2 linked regions of the Homo sapiens genome follow. The protein of the gene in region 2 purifies or fractionates together with the protein of the main gene of each other region. This does not show direct contact. Each region holds a gene or a part of one and is shown on either strand. Other genes may lie near its edges.

Region 1 (7,000 bases), on a different chromosome or scaffold from region 2:
TTTTTTTCATCTGCAAAAATGGGGCTAATGATAGAACCTACTTAGCATAGTTGTGAAGATTAAATGAGGTAGTACATAGTAAACTTCCAAAGCTGTTGGCTGCTGGTGCCTTTGTTACTGCCTAAGTGTTGGACCAAAGGAAACTGGAAGGTGATTTTCATTCATGGTGGTAGATTATGTGTTAAGGTGCCTTTGCTTCTGGACAATCAACTCTCCCTAGTTTGGTTTTTTGTACCATCTGCATCTACCTCTATGACTCATTGCTGTGTTACAATAGGAGGCATCTTTGTGTAGGCTGCCCAAGACAAACAGGGACTGTTTCCCTGTGTTTCATAGCACTAATGAGAGGGAAAGCTGTACACATCTTCATCTTTCACTTCTGAGAGTGTTCCTCAAGCAAAATGTTCCCTATCTTGGGCTACCAGCAGAAAGAATTCTGTTGCTTTCATGATTTCTGTGATTAGACCAGGGCACAATTTTGAACGTTATCAGACAATGTGAACTAAAGAGGAAGAAAATCCATTTTGACAGTAAAGAACTCTTGGTACCAAATTGGCAAGGTTGCTTTTCCCTTGGCACCTGTGCTTACCTCTAACATAGCCCTTACCCAGTTCAGAGATGGAGTTGGGTAATACGGGACCTGAAGTTGATGCAAGTTGTAGGGGTCCTCAAAGAAAAATCATGCAAAAATAGCTTTCTTTTGTGTATTTTGCAGAAACATGTGAGCATATTACTAGGGTCTTAAGTGTTAGAATGAGATAATGAGATAATATTGTTCCTCTGTTTAAAATGTTCTTCTGGTTCTATTGCAGTTACACAAAATCCAAACTCCTTATATTGGACTATGAGACTGAGTGATCTGCCTGTTGTCCCCACCACCCCCTCCCACCAATCTCTTTAACCACATTTCCTGCCACTCCTTTCTTCCACCACACTAGTCCTCTTTCACTTCCTCTATGGGATGGTCTATACGCACTGCAGGCCTCTGTACATGCTGTTCCCTTTGCCTGGAATGAATCACTCCTCCTTCCCTAGGTAGGCAGGAAGCAGTCTTCACCTATTTGCCTAAATGTCACTTCCTCTGAGATGTTTATAAGCATCTCAGAGGAATGTGGTCCCTCTTTGTCATGTCACCTGAGCTGCTGCTTTTTTTTTTTTTTTTGGTATGGGGGTCTTGGTATGTTGCCCAGGCTGGTTCTTGAACTCCTGGACTCCAGTGATTCTACCACCTCAGCCTCTTGAGTAGCTGGGACTATAGGTGGGTACTACTGTGCCTGGCGCTCACCTGAGCTTTTAATAAGACTTAATCATTGTAATTTTTCATTGGGGTGTTCTTAATATTTATCTCTCCTGTACACTATAAACTTTAAGCACAGCACTGCCTTTTTGTTTTTTGAGACGGAGTCTCGCTCTATCGCCCAGGCTGGAATGCAGTGGCACTACCTCGGCTCACTGCAAGCTCCGCCTCCCAGGTTCATGCCATTCTCCTGCCTCAGCCTCCCAAGTAGCTGGGACTACAGGCGCCCACCACTGCGTCCAGCTAATTTTTTGTATTTTTAGTAGAGATGGGGTTTCACCATGTTAGCCAGGATGGTCTCGATCTCCTGATCTCGTGATCCCAAAGTGCTGGGATTACAGGCGTGAGCCACTGTGCCCAGCCTGCACTGCCTTTTTTTGACTCACCACTCTGTAAGTACACCCAAAATAGTTCTGGCACATAATAGGTCCATAGATGTTTGTTGAGTCAGTGAGTGAATGAAATTTCTAATATTTGCACAACGGGTTTAATAAACCTTTTTATGTCTTTTCCTTTTCTTTTCCCCTTTATGCTCATTCCTTTTTTCCCCATTTTCTTTTGTTTTAGTCACCCACTCAACCATTCTAAGATATTTATATGGTTTTATAATTCCACCTGTTAGTCTGGTTATGTGTATACCCTTGGGAAGTAGAAGGATGGTTTTGTATGTATCTGCTTAGGATTCTAAAATGTTATTGTGCTACAAATCTGCATTTCATAGACAGGATAGAATAGGTTATGTTGAGGTAACAACCACAAAATCTCAGTAATTTAACACACTTTCAGGTCAGTGGGAGGCTCTGTAGATTGGAGTCCTTTAGGGATCCAGGCTGATCGAGGCATCGTCTCTCAAGTATACCTACATGAGGAGGGAATCTTGTGAAGAGCTACATTCAGGCTCTTAAAGTTTTGCCTAGAGGTGAGCCTTGTCATTTTTGCTGCCATTTCTTTGGCCAGAGCAAATCATGTGGCCATGTTGACCTTCAAGGAGGGCAGTGACCTTTTTGGAAGGGGGAGAACCACGAATATTTGTGTGTTTTTTTTGGGTTTTTTTTTTTTTTTTTTTTTTTTAAGAAAGGGTTTCGCTCCCACTGCCCAGGCTGGAGTATAATGGTGCGTGCCACCACGCCCTGCTAAGTTTTGATTGTTTTGTAGAGATGGGGTTTCACCATGTTGCTCAGGCTGGTCTTGAACTCTTGGGCTCAAGCGATCTGCCCACCTCATCTTCCCAAAGTGCTGAAATTATAGGTATGAGCCACTGTGCTGGTGCACCAGGAGTATTTGAACAGAAGCAATGACCATCCCTAAATTTTATATCAGTTTCTTCTTTGTTTTCTTTTCTTTTCTTTTTTTTTTTTTTTTGAGATGGAGTTTTGCTCTTGTTGCCCAGGCTGGAGTGCAATGGCATGATCTCGGCTCACCGCAACCTCCGCCCCCCAGGTTCAAGCTATTCTCCTGCCTCAGCCTCCTGAGTAGCTGGGATTACAGGCATGTGCCACCGTGCCTGGCTAATTTTGTATTTTTAGTAGAGACAGGGTTTCACCATGTTGGTCAGGCTGGTCTCGAACTCCTGACCTCAGATGATCCGCCTGCCTCAGCCTCCCAAAGTGTTGGGCTTACAGGCGTGAGCCACCATGCCTGGCCTTAGTTTCTTTTTTTAACCAATTTTGTTTTGAGCTCTATTCATGATGCTATACAATATGTGTCTAGTTCATTATTTCTCTTGGTTGTAGAGCAGTCATGTTTGCCTGCCACATTTTACTTATTTATTTCTCTAGAATTAGACATCTTTGTTGTTTCCCAACCCCTTGCTGCCTCAAACAGTCATGACCATGCCCATCCTTGCACATCCTTGTCTCCTTTGGATGTTGTGAGAGAGTTTCCTGTGGAATGTACTCAGAAGTGGAATTGCTGGGTCTTAGGGTACATTGTCTCTCCTTCCAGGATAAGGCATGTTATCTCTTTCTCTCTCTCTTTTTTTTTTTTTGAGACCGAGTCTCACTCTGTTGCCCAGGCTGGAGTGCAGTGTTGCAATCCTGGCTCACTGCAACCCCTCCCCACAAGGTTCAAGCAATTCTCCTGCCTTAGCCTCCTGAGTAGCTGGGATTACAGGTGCCTGACACCATGCCCAGCTAATTTTTATATTTTTAGTAGAGACAGGGTTTCATTATATTGCTCAGGCTGGTCTCCAAGTCCTGACCTTGTGATCTGCCCTCCTTGGCCTCCCAAAGTGCTGGGATTACAGGTGTGAACCACCGCACCGGCTATTAATCTCTTTCTTTAAAACAATACCGTTAATCCAGTTGCAGTAGTGAGGCAGGGTACCTCTCAAGATCTCACTTTTTCTTTGACCTTGGGCAAGTCCTTTCTACTTTCTGACTCTTGGTTTCCTTAATCTGTAAAGTGGAGGTGATAATTGTTTACAAAATCTTTACCATGGTGGCCTACAAGGCCCTACCTGACCAGGTCCTTAGTTTTCTTCCAGTGTTCTCTTCACTCATGCACTCTAGCCACACTGTCCTTTGTGCTGTTGGGTTGTAGGTTGGGCACATTCTTATCTTAGAATCTTTGCATTTGCCATTCCTGCTGCCTGGAAAGCTTGTCTCTCAAATACCGTATGACTTGCTTCCTCACTTCCTTCACCCCTCTGTTGAAATGTCTCTTCACAGAGGCCATCTTTGATCACTGTAATACAGAACTCCCTGTCATTTTCTACCCTTTGATTTTGCCTTATTTTTCTTTGTAGCGCTGATCACTAACTGATGTTACATCGTGTATAAGTATTTATCTTCTTCTGCCACCCCAAGTGTAAGCTTCATGATGGTTGGGGCTTTGCCTTGTTCATTGCTCAGTGTGTAGAACAGATTCTGGCACATAGAAAATACTCAGTAGATACCTGTTGATTAAATGATTGACTAGATCCTACCTCAGAGGAATACCTTTGAAGATGTATAAAATTTCTTTGAAGGCTATAAGGTGCCGAATAACCTTAGGAGGGTTCACTGCTTGGCCTTAGTAGCGTTCATGATTTTGGATTTTGAATTGTTTCTATGTAACCCTGAAACACTCAGACTTACTTATTGCATTCAGGGTGTAGTTCATAGCATCAGCAGTTCTGCCAGGTTTGTAAGGAACACACATCTGTTAGAGTGTGAAGGCCCTGGAGGAAGAAAGGTTGAGACAGGTTGATGTGCTTTTTTTTGTCTCTTATGGCTCTTTCTGAGATGTGTACCATGATGATAACCAGGAACTTTTTTTTTTTTTTTTTTTTTGAGAGACAGGGTCTTGCTCAGACACTCAGGCTGGAGTGCATTGGTGCTCACTATAACCTTGAACTCCTGGGTTCAGGGAATCCTCCTGCTTCAGCCTCCTAAGTAGCTAGTACTACCGGCATGTACCACCATGCCTGGCTAATTTTAAAATTTAGAGATAGGGTCTTGCTGTATTGCCCAGGCTGGGCTCAAACTCCTTGCCTCATGCAATCCTCCCTCCTTGGCCTCCCAAAAGTGCTGGGTTTACAGGCATGAGCCACCATGTCTGGCCTGATAAGTAGGAGCTTTTGAAGTGGTTTCACACTGATTTTGTAGTTTTGAACTTGGATGCTTCTTTTGGGTAGTTGATGCAGTAACTAATACTGGTGCTGTCTTTCAGAACAGCTTCATGTGAAAAAGGCCTGCTTAAGCCTGTGTCTTTGGGAAGAACATCTCTGCCGCTGTTACAGCAGATACAGTAATAGCAAAGAAAGTCTTAAAGATGATTTAGCCCATGGCAAGGAAATATATGGGACTCTTGTTTGAATATAAACACTCACAGAATTCCAGTTTCACTTATTTATGCACCTTTCAAAGAAAGGAAGAAGATACTGTGGTAGAGTACAGTAGTCCTCCCTTATCTGAGTGGCATATGTTCCAAGACCCCTAGTGGATGCCTGAAACCACAGATATCAATAGTACCAAACCCTGCATATACTGTGTTTTTTCCTATGCAGTATATGCCTATGATGAAGTTTAATTTATAAATTAGGCATAGTAAGAGATTAACAATAATAACCAATAAAAAAGAATTATAACAATATATTGTAATGACAGTTACATGAATGTGGTTACTGTACTCACTGTGGGTAACTGGAATTGTCAAAGCAAAACTACATTTAAGTGGGTACTCCTGTAGCTGTTGGCCCTGCCTTGCCTATCTAGCTTAATTTTCCTCTGTTTTTCCGTTCACCTGCTGTGGTCCACTTACCACTTTCTTTACTCTCCTCACTGTGCCACCAGCATACTGTTGCTTACCTTCTTACATCTGTCTGGTCTTGCTGACATGGTTTTTTTTTTTGTCTGAAATGCCCTCCTCCACTTTCTTGCATGATTTTTTTTTTTTTTTTTTTGAGACGGAGTCTCACTCTGTCACCCAGGCTAGAGTGTGCAGTCACATGATCTTGGCTCACTGCAACCTCTGCCCACTGGGCTCAAGTGAGTATCGTGCCTCAGCCTCCCGAGTAGCTGGGATTACAGGCGCACACCACCACGCCGGGCTAATTCTTGTTATTTTTAGTAGAGACGGCGTCTCACCATGTTGCCCAGCCTGGTCTCGAACCCCTGACCTCAGGTGATCCACTGCCTCAGCCTCCCAAACTGCTGGGATTACAGGCGCCTGGCCCTCTTGCATGTTTTTATTTTTGTTTTATACTTGCCACTACACTTTAACTTCTGTGAAAACAGGGACTGTGATTGTCTTGTGTACTGGTATTTCTCCACCGTCTGCTGTGGGGCCTAGAATAAAATAAATGGTACCCATCTTTTTTGTTTTGTTTTGTTTTTGGAGATGAGTCTCACTCTGTCCCCAGACTGGAGTGCAGTGGCGCGATCTCGCCTCAGTGCAACCTATGCCTCCCGGGTTCAAGCGATTCTCCTGCCTCAGCCTCCCAAGTAGCTGGGCTACAGGTATGCGCCACCACATCTGGCTAATTTTTGTATTTTTAGTACAAAATTTAAAAATGATGGCCTCGATGTCGTGATCCGCCCTCCTCGGCCTCCCAAAGTGCTGGGATTACAGGTGTGAGTCACCGTGCCCGGCCCTTTTGTTTTTTTGAGATGGAGTTTCACTCTTCTCATCCAGGCTGGAGTGCAGTGGCATGATCTTGGCTCACGGCCACCTCCGCCTCCCACATTTTCCTGCCTCGGCCTCCCAAGTAGCTATGATAACAGGCACACACCACCATGGCCGGCTAATTTTTTTATTTTTAGTAGAGACAGGATTTCACCATGTTGGTCAGGCTGGTCTCGAACTCCTGACCTCAGGTGATATGCCTGCCTCAGCCCCACAAGGTGCTGGGATTACAGGCGTGAGACACCGTATCTGCCCCGGATGGTACCGATCTTTCAAGATCTTACATAAAGCTTATCTCCAATGTGTGTAGTCTTTTCTGAGCAACTCCATGCCATGCTCAGTTACATCACTCCCTACTTAGTTATAATAGTTCTTTTTTCTTTTTTTGAGACAGAGTTTTGCTCTTGTTGCCCAAGCTGGAGTGCAATGGCGTGATCTCGGCTCACTGCAACCTCTGCCTCCTGGGTTCAAGCGATTCTCCTGCCTCAGCCTCCCAAGTAGCTATGATTATAGGCGCACACCACCACTCCCAGCTAATTTTTGTATTTTTAGTAGAGGCAGGGTTTCACCATGTTGGCCAGGCTGGTCTTGAACTCC
Region 2 (8,298 bases):
TATGTGTACTTTATTAAAATTCATGATTGTACTCGATTAAGTAATAATAGAGTACAGTGTCTAGGTTCAAGACATCACTGACCCACTCCTTGTTGTCCATGTTTTTCTGAGTAAATCTTAGAAGTCTTTTTAGAGCATAATTATACAATCTGCCAGACAAAATGCTAACTTTCTTTTTTTTTGAGAGCTTGTTTTCTTAGAAACATGCTTTTTTCAGATGAGAAACCACAACTGTATAGATAAAAACACTTTCTGTTTGTGAATCTTAATCAATATTTAGGCAATACAAGAGTCTAGTCATTTCTTAATTGGGCTCTACTGGAGAATTCATAGATAAAACTTAAGGCATCTATTCTGTGAAATGAATTAACTTCTCTCTCGTGCATCTAGAGTGGTCCCTAGGGATGTGCCATTCTTGGGATAATTGAAAAAATAAACACTCAAAATTATTTTCTGTGATCTGTGGTACAGGTAAGGAACCATGGGCTGGATAGGCCTTTACATTGCATTTAAGCATTTAAAAATTACACTGAACTTTAATGGATCATTGAGTTGGAATGAGGAGGGGATATCCATTAAAAGATTGATTAATAAAATAAGGAAAATAGTAGTGATTTTTAAAAATATACCCTCAAGGATAAATTCTCCTAAATGTACTCACTTGAGACTTGAGATCACATCTATTTCTATAGGAGATTAAGGAGTTGATAAAATACCTCCGTTGAGGGAATCTTGGGTTCTCATCACATATTTCCAGAAAAACATGCTTCATGGATCCTGAAATATAAAAGATCCTCTTCTGATAAAATTAAGATTGTAGTTTTGAATGAATGAATGAATGAAGTTTGGTCAATAAATATCTGCTTATTAAATACTTAAGTGTCTATTCTAGTTGGAAAGACAAGATCAGCACAAAAAATTGTATGAGTCAAGTAAAGGACCCATTTAAAGGGTTTGAACTTGCTTGAAATTGCTTGAAAAAATACTATGGTTATTAAGTGCTAGATTGAATGACATAGTCAACACTGTTCAATAGAAATGTAATACAAGTTACATATGTAGTTTAAAATTTTCTAGGAGCCACATTAAAATACGTTAAAAGAAACAGGTGAAATTATTTTAATAATATTTAATCTAGTATATCAAAAATATTATTTCAATATGCTCTCAACATAAACAAATGAAATATTTTACTTTTTTAAATGAAAGTCTTCAAAATCCAAGGTGTATCTAGTCTCAAGAGCCCAGTTAGCCCATGTGGCTCATATGCTCAGTAACTACATGTGGCTGCTGTATAGAATAGTGCAAATAAAGACTATGTGAGGATAAGTATTGTTTGAAACTTGAACTTAGTGAATTCTCTTTTACAGCAAAGAGTTAAGATCTCTAGTATACTGTCTTGACTCAAGGTTGAGATATAGTGTTGAATAAATTATTTCTGATGTGGCTGAGCTATAGCCTTGAATTCCATAGCTTATCACTTTTGGTTTTCTAATATTTGTATTATTTGAGTAATTTCAAAGAACTAGAGAAAAGTATTGATGTGTTGATTTTATCTCTTTGATTTTCTTGAAATGTAAATATTATATGTATTTAAATTCAAGTGAATGTTTAAGATTAAATAGTGTATGTCTGTATACCTGTATGTATCTATGTGTACACATAGTCACTATTGTTACTGTTATGATAAAGGAATATACTTGCATAGGCATGTGACTTACTTGTCCCTATTCAAATGCAGAAAAATATTTGCTTCTTTCAGTCTAGTACAGTGTCACATATTTTTACTTTTTTTTTTTTTGAGACAGAGTCTCGCTCTGTCACCCAGGCTGGAGTGCAGTGGCTCAATCTCGGCCCACTGCAACCTCCACCTCCTAGGTTCAAGCAATTCTCATGCCTCAACCTCCCAAGCATCTGGGACTACAGGCACCTGCCACCCTGCCTGGCTAATTTTTGTATTTTTAGTAGAAACGGGGTTTTGCCATATTGGCCAGGATGGTCTCGAACTCCTGACCTCAGGTGATCTGCCCACCTCGGCCTCCCGAAGTGTTGGGATTACAGACGTGAGCCACTGTGCCCAGCCTACTTATTTTTTTTTATTACCAAAATAATACTGTTTGTTTTACAATATATTTTCAGGGTTCAATATGTAAGGGAACATTCTCTAGTATCTGAACTTTAGAACCTGGACCCTACCTAGGAAGATTAGCAAGTACACACCACTGAGGAAGGACTTTAAAGAAATATTTAGCTATTTTCAGAAAAAAGGCTCCAGTACTTCAGAATTTATAATAAAGATGTGTGTTCCAAATGTTGTAACTGTTCCATTAAAAGTGATGCTAATGAATCATAGAATCAGTTTAATTTCACTAAACTTAGTTTTTACTATTTTCAAAGCTATACAAACAAATCAATATGAAATTACATCATGTTTTTGCATTTTATCATGGTTCTCATCACTTCCTCTATATAAATGAAGAGAAGAAGCAGTAAAATTCAAATTTTCCTGAATACTTTTGTGTCCAGTGACATTCATTTCGATTCTTTCCAGATACCCTCTTTCAGCAGACACTTGATCAGCGTTTACTGCCTAAGGCTGAGAAGAAACTAGCTGCTCTGTCTAGCTCATTGTACATGTACAACTGTCCTCTAGCTTTGAGATCAGTAGCCAGGGCCTTTCGGTAATCAGCAGCTTACAGTTAAGGGGAAGGGGCAGAGAAGTTTGGTATTTACTCTTGACTTGGAGAAATAATGTGCCTCTAGCATTAATAAGAAATAGCTAAAAGAGTGAAAAGAAAAGTCTGAATACAAGAACAAAGTCAAAGTTCTTTCTTTGAATATGAAAAGAGAAGGGGAGGAAAAAGGAAGAAAGGAAACTGGTTTAGGGGATGGGAAAAATTGCTGTCATTTTAGTATCAAATGAATGAAAAAGTTTTTTAAATATCAGGAAGGAGAGAAAACTGAGGGTTAGAATTTTACTATAATGCTGGGTATAACACAGAACCAAGTAAATTACGGGAGAATTGCATAAATAATAGCAGAGGTTTTGGCATTAGGCATATCTGACCTGAATCCTGACCTGATGAAGCCACTTATTCATCTAGTTACTTAATCCTTTGGGTTGTTTCTATTCTGCATAATTGTGATAATAATAATTGTGAGGAGAATTAAATGAGATTTTTTTAAGGAACTTGGTAAGCATTTAATAAATGTAATTTAGTTATTTATTTCCATAGACTTTCCCATTCTTAATACTGGTGCCATAGTGGGGCCAGGCACAGTGGCTCATGCCAGTAATCCTAGCACTTTGGAAGGCCCAGGCGGGTGGATTGCCTGAGCTCCATCCAGCCTGGGCAACTTGGTGAAACCCCATCTCTACTAAAACACAAAAAATTAGCTGGTTGTGGTAATGTGTGTGTGTAGTCCCAGTACTCAGGAGGCTGTGGCATGAGAATTGCTTGAACCTGGGAGGAGGAGGTTGCAGTGAGCCAAGATTGCACCACTGCATTCTAGCTTAGGTGACGGAGTGAGACTGTCTCAAAAAAAAAAAAAAAAAAATGCTGCCATAGTGGATTAAGATGATGACAAAGAACTCCATTGGAAGGGTGGATTTTCTATTTATTCTACTATGAATTTTGGTGGATTTAACTACTAATGTGGTAAAACTGAGAACATAGAGAATGTCAGCATAAGACTTTATGACATTTTACTAACTGATAAAAGCTCCCCCTAAAATTTGCTATAGTAGTGAAAAGTTCTCATATAAGCTGTATTTAATCTGCCTCAGATATTAAAGCTATTGGTTTCAGAAATTATTCAAAATTGAGAATAACAGAATTACAGGATAAACTTTAGCCACATTCTTTTGAAGGCTGATTATGTAAGTAAAAGATATGATTTATCTGTAGCAGTTTTAGTTTTTTGAAGGTGGCATAGTGATGACCATTTAGCATCTTTGGAGTGTCAAGCACAGAATAGATGTTCAACAGTTATTTGCCTGAGAAATTGAGACTGAGATTGGAGTACTTAACCCACACAAGCTAGTTTGCTTTGTTCTCTTCCATAATTATAGATGTCACTCTTCGATCTACTGCAGATTAGTATCCTTAGTCACCAGGAAAGTTGAGACAAGGCACCTATCATGACATCATCTAAAAGAATGTGCATGTGCTTTATTGACAGGACATCAGTAGCAATATCTTTTATAAAGATACTATCTCAAAGCTTTTATAAAGAATAACACATTATTATAACTAAAGTTAACTGTGGTGAAGCCTGAAAATCAGATCATTTATCCATGGACAGATGTTTAAATTTCATCAAAGTGACTGCCAGACATTTTTGGATCATGTTGTCGGATTAGCCTAATTTTGTACTTCAGAAACATAGAAGGAATCTTTTGTTGGCGGATAGGTTTTTAGAAATTACCAAAGTTTAAATCATTTATTTTACTGATAAGGAAACATTTATATTTAAAACAAGTAAATATAAACCACATACATAGAATGTTTTTACTTCTTCATAAAATAATTTTTTATTTTCTTTATAAATAGTGAGCTATAATAGATTGATTTTAAGGTATGCAGAATAAAGTTTAGAAGAGCCCAGTGATAATACTAGCAACAAAGTAGTGTGTTGGAATACATATTGCTTCATTACATATTACATTATTAAGTGTTATTTTGGTAGTGTTTATAGAGAGCTTTGAGATAAATAGCCTTATCTGACACAATGCAACGTTGTGGTGCCACTGCAATTGTTATTAGGCAATTTTGCAAATGATACTGTGGGAGTGAAGAGAAGAATTGAATAAATGTGAAAATGAGAATAATTTGGACTAGAAACTATAGTGTTTATGATAAATTAGTCTCCAGAAGGTATAAATAATAGGTAATATAAACTCAAAACAGGGAAGGAATCACTTGGAGTTTTGTAAATTTAATACGTTTGTTGGACTTACAGACAAGAAATAAAAGTCTCTATAAGATGTATTTTAATTTTGTTTATATTTAAATTTTGAGTTTTTAAAGAGATAGCAGTACCCAGTTATCTATCAGTTAAGAAATCTGGGTGTTTAAGAAAGTTTGGGTTCCTTCCATTAAAAGGGAGATTTATAAGACTTGGCTTTTGCTTGGCTTTTTCATTTTTTTAAATATCCATTTTTAAGCATATTTTATATTATGGTTCTTCTTTATTTTCAACATTTTACTGTCAAATTCTTTTGCCTTAAGGGAAGATTTATAAAATACTCTATTCTTCAGTGCATTTATATATTATGTCTCTTCCACTGGACCTGTTACTATCTTGTAACTGTTTACAGTGGTCAAGGTTTTTTTTTTTTAATTTGAAACATATTGCTGTGGGGAAATTTCTTCTTCCTGAAATGAGCTCACCTCTATTGCCACACAATAAAAGAATTCTCAGCTTTTGAGAGCTCTGGCTTCCTTATGAAATATGGATAGACTTCTGCTTCTGAAGTGTTTTAGGTTTTTTTCTTTAGATAAGGAAGAAGAGGAATAAATAGTATGAGGTGTGTTTCTTCTTTTAAGACACAGGAATATCTATATCAGATAAATGAGAAGAAAATTAAGAAACTTTAAAGCTCTAAATGAGAGAGCTCATTAGAAATTAGCTACTTGGATGATGAAAATTTCTTCATCATCTACACTTAAAGGCATTTATGGTTTTTATACTACTTAGATACTTGATTTTGCAATTAGTATTTCTTTAGAATGTTTGTCCCTGATAGCTCCATCACATGGACTGTTATTCCTGAACACTCTGTTGTATTCTCCATGAAAAAATATTTTAGGAGAAAAGATAGAAAACTCAGCAATTATTTCAAGATAATTGTTGAGGACTTCCCTTGTTTCTTTTAAAAGCATAGCCTTTTGTTAGCCAGGTAGATTTATCTTTTCTTTAACATCTTCGATCAAGTAATACTTGAGGGAAATATTCTGTAGAAAGACATCCATTGAAGGCCAGAAACATCTACAGATGCAATGTGATCCCAAGCAATGAAGCATGTGGCCCTTCATTGGCATTATATGATAACAGGAGGATCTTCTGGCAGAAGAAGTGACTTTTGCTGCGTTCTGCATGCTGCCCCTCCAAACCCATCTTTGATTGGCACCTATGCCCTATTGAAACTGGCATCACACCTTCTGAATGGGCACAGTGCCAGGCTAGCAGATGGGTATGGGCAAAAGCATGCCAGAAACCCAGTATGTGAATCAAGTTTAAGTATCAGGGGCCCAAATTCCCATCCAGGGATATAAAAACTACAGTCTGTTGAGAGCTTTTTGTGCTTAAGGTTAAAGGACATGCCATTTCTACTCCAACTTAGAAGTTGATTAATTTTGAAAGTCAAACAGCAGCTCCTGTGGCTGTGTCAGGCAAAATCCTGTCTTTGGTGAATGAGAATTACTACTTCGTGTAGGGAAGAGAAAGTATTGTAATGAAGTTTCCAATGAGAGTTACTCTCCTGCAAGTGCCTCCAGCACTTAAGCAGCATGCATTCAGTGGAGATGAATATTTCTGTTCTCCAGCAGAGCCAGGTGCAATCAAAGCCAGATCTTCAACCTGCTGCAGTAAAGAACCCTAAATTTAGAAAGGGCAGGCAAAGTTTAGAAGAACTCCTTGGTGGCAGGCAGCTCTTTTCACTATGAGCTGATGAAGCTTCACAAAATTGTATAAAGGAGATGAAGGGAAAACTCCAAATAAAAGACCTTCAGAAAATTTCATCCAGAAACAGAAAGATTTTTAACAAACCAAAGGAAAAAGTTTAGTCCTTTCTCCTCAATGCAGAAAATCTTCTGAGTTTTCTATCAATAAAAACTTAGTTAACCAAAATGTTAGAACCAACTTAATGCATAAGTGACAAAACTTTCTATTTTTACATTTATTTCATTGCATGTCTATCATGTATATAAACTTTGCTTCTTGAATAATGGATTTTGCATAAAATTGAGAACTCTAAACATCATATTTCCTTCTGATTGTCTCACACCCACTACAGAACTCCCCTCCCCCACCCCCTAAAAGAGGGCACGCTTCCTTCTGATCACTTTAATCATATCTTCTAAATGCTCTAAAATTTACAGGAATGCCTGTAAGACCAGCTGTGGCCAAGAGAAGCTTTTCCTAATCGCCTTATAGCCGTTGCTTTTGCTTTTTCACTGTGTAAACTTTATCTATGGAACAGATTCCATGAGACCGTTGTGAATACTTCAACGTATTCAAAACATATAACTGCCACAAATTAAACTACTAAAACTAAAGCTGGTGCATTGTAACTGCCAAGTAAAACTGGCACGTCCCTCTGTCAGACTGCAGGAGAGTGTGCCATACAGTCCTCGGAAAACACAATTCATCCAGAAGCACTCTTGTCACTTGCTCTGATATTAAACCAGAGAAAGTGACATTAATTAAAGAAGTGACATGAGCCAACAAAGGCAATGAATTCTCAGCTTTGGCTCATGTGCAGACCTTAATCCAACCTGTTCTGCTTAGGTAGTGTGGCTATTTCTGAAGAGTAACTAGTGTGGCTACTCACCCCACTTCCTCTCATCTTCCCATTCTGCATCACGTGTTTGAGGAACTAACATTTTATATCCAGGGTTGGACTGGTTAATTGGTACACTGGTAGTCATTGCAGGGCTTCCCAAAATAGTAGTGTGGTGGCATGTGATGCTTTTATTGTACTTGGTAATAGTGTGAGATGTACAACTAGAGGTAGAGGAGAGTTGGTCTAACGAAAAGGCAAGCAACAGCCAAACAGCAGAATACCTAGACTTGGTAGACTGGAAGCGAGGAGGGTCTGCTGCTAGGACTGGTTGTGGAAACAAATGGTGGCTTGGTAGGCTTTATGAAAATTCTGAAATGCTAAAGAGGCATGCTGGGGAGTGTTCATAACTTCTCTCTTTCTTTGTTCCGATGGTGTGCTTTCACACAATGCTCACCTCATTATTTCAGACGGTCACTATTTTGTATGCTGTCTTTTTAACCTGTTTCCCCCAACATGTGTGCACACAGACACTACATTATAAACTGCTTTCAGGCAGTCACTCACAGTGCTTAATATGGCCTTGCATGTTATAGTTCTTAAAAAATGATGTGTTAAATTAACTCTAGAACTGTTCTATTATGATTTTCCCAATAAATAGGTTGTATGAGACAAAAAAATTCCATGCTCTATCCTATATGTGACCTGCGTGTAAGGCACTGTACTTTCAGATTTAGATAAATTCTTTTGTATCTTTTGGGGAGTTTGAAGGGATAAAAGTATGTGTTTATTCT

What was found.
Region 1: the proteins of VRK2 (region 2) and MAP2K1 purify together in Homo sapiens (pull-down; 2 studies listed by IntAct, with this or other methods). This does not show direct contact.

Annotation. Positions count from the first base shown.
Region 1 is NC_000015.10:66,389,912-66,396,911, forward strand, and holds part of MAP2K1 (dual specificity mitogen-activated protein kinase kinase 1), read left to right. Parts: intron 1-7,000. UniProt on the Homo sapiens protein: Dual specificity protein kinase which acts as an essential component of the MAP kinase signal transduction pathway.
Region 2 is NC_000002.12:58,049,062-58,057,359, forward strand, and holds part of VRK2 (serine/threonine-protein kinase VRK2), read left to right. Parts: intron 1-8,298. UniProt on the Homo sapiens protein: Serine/threonine kinase that regulates several signal transduction pathways.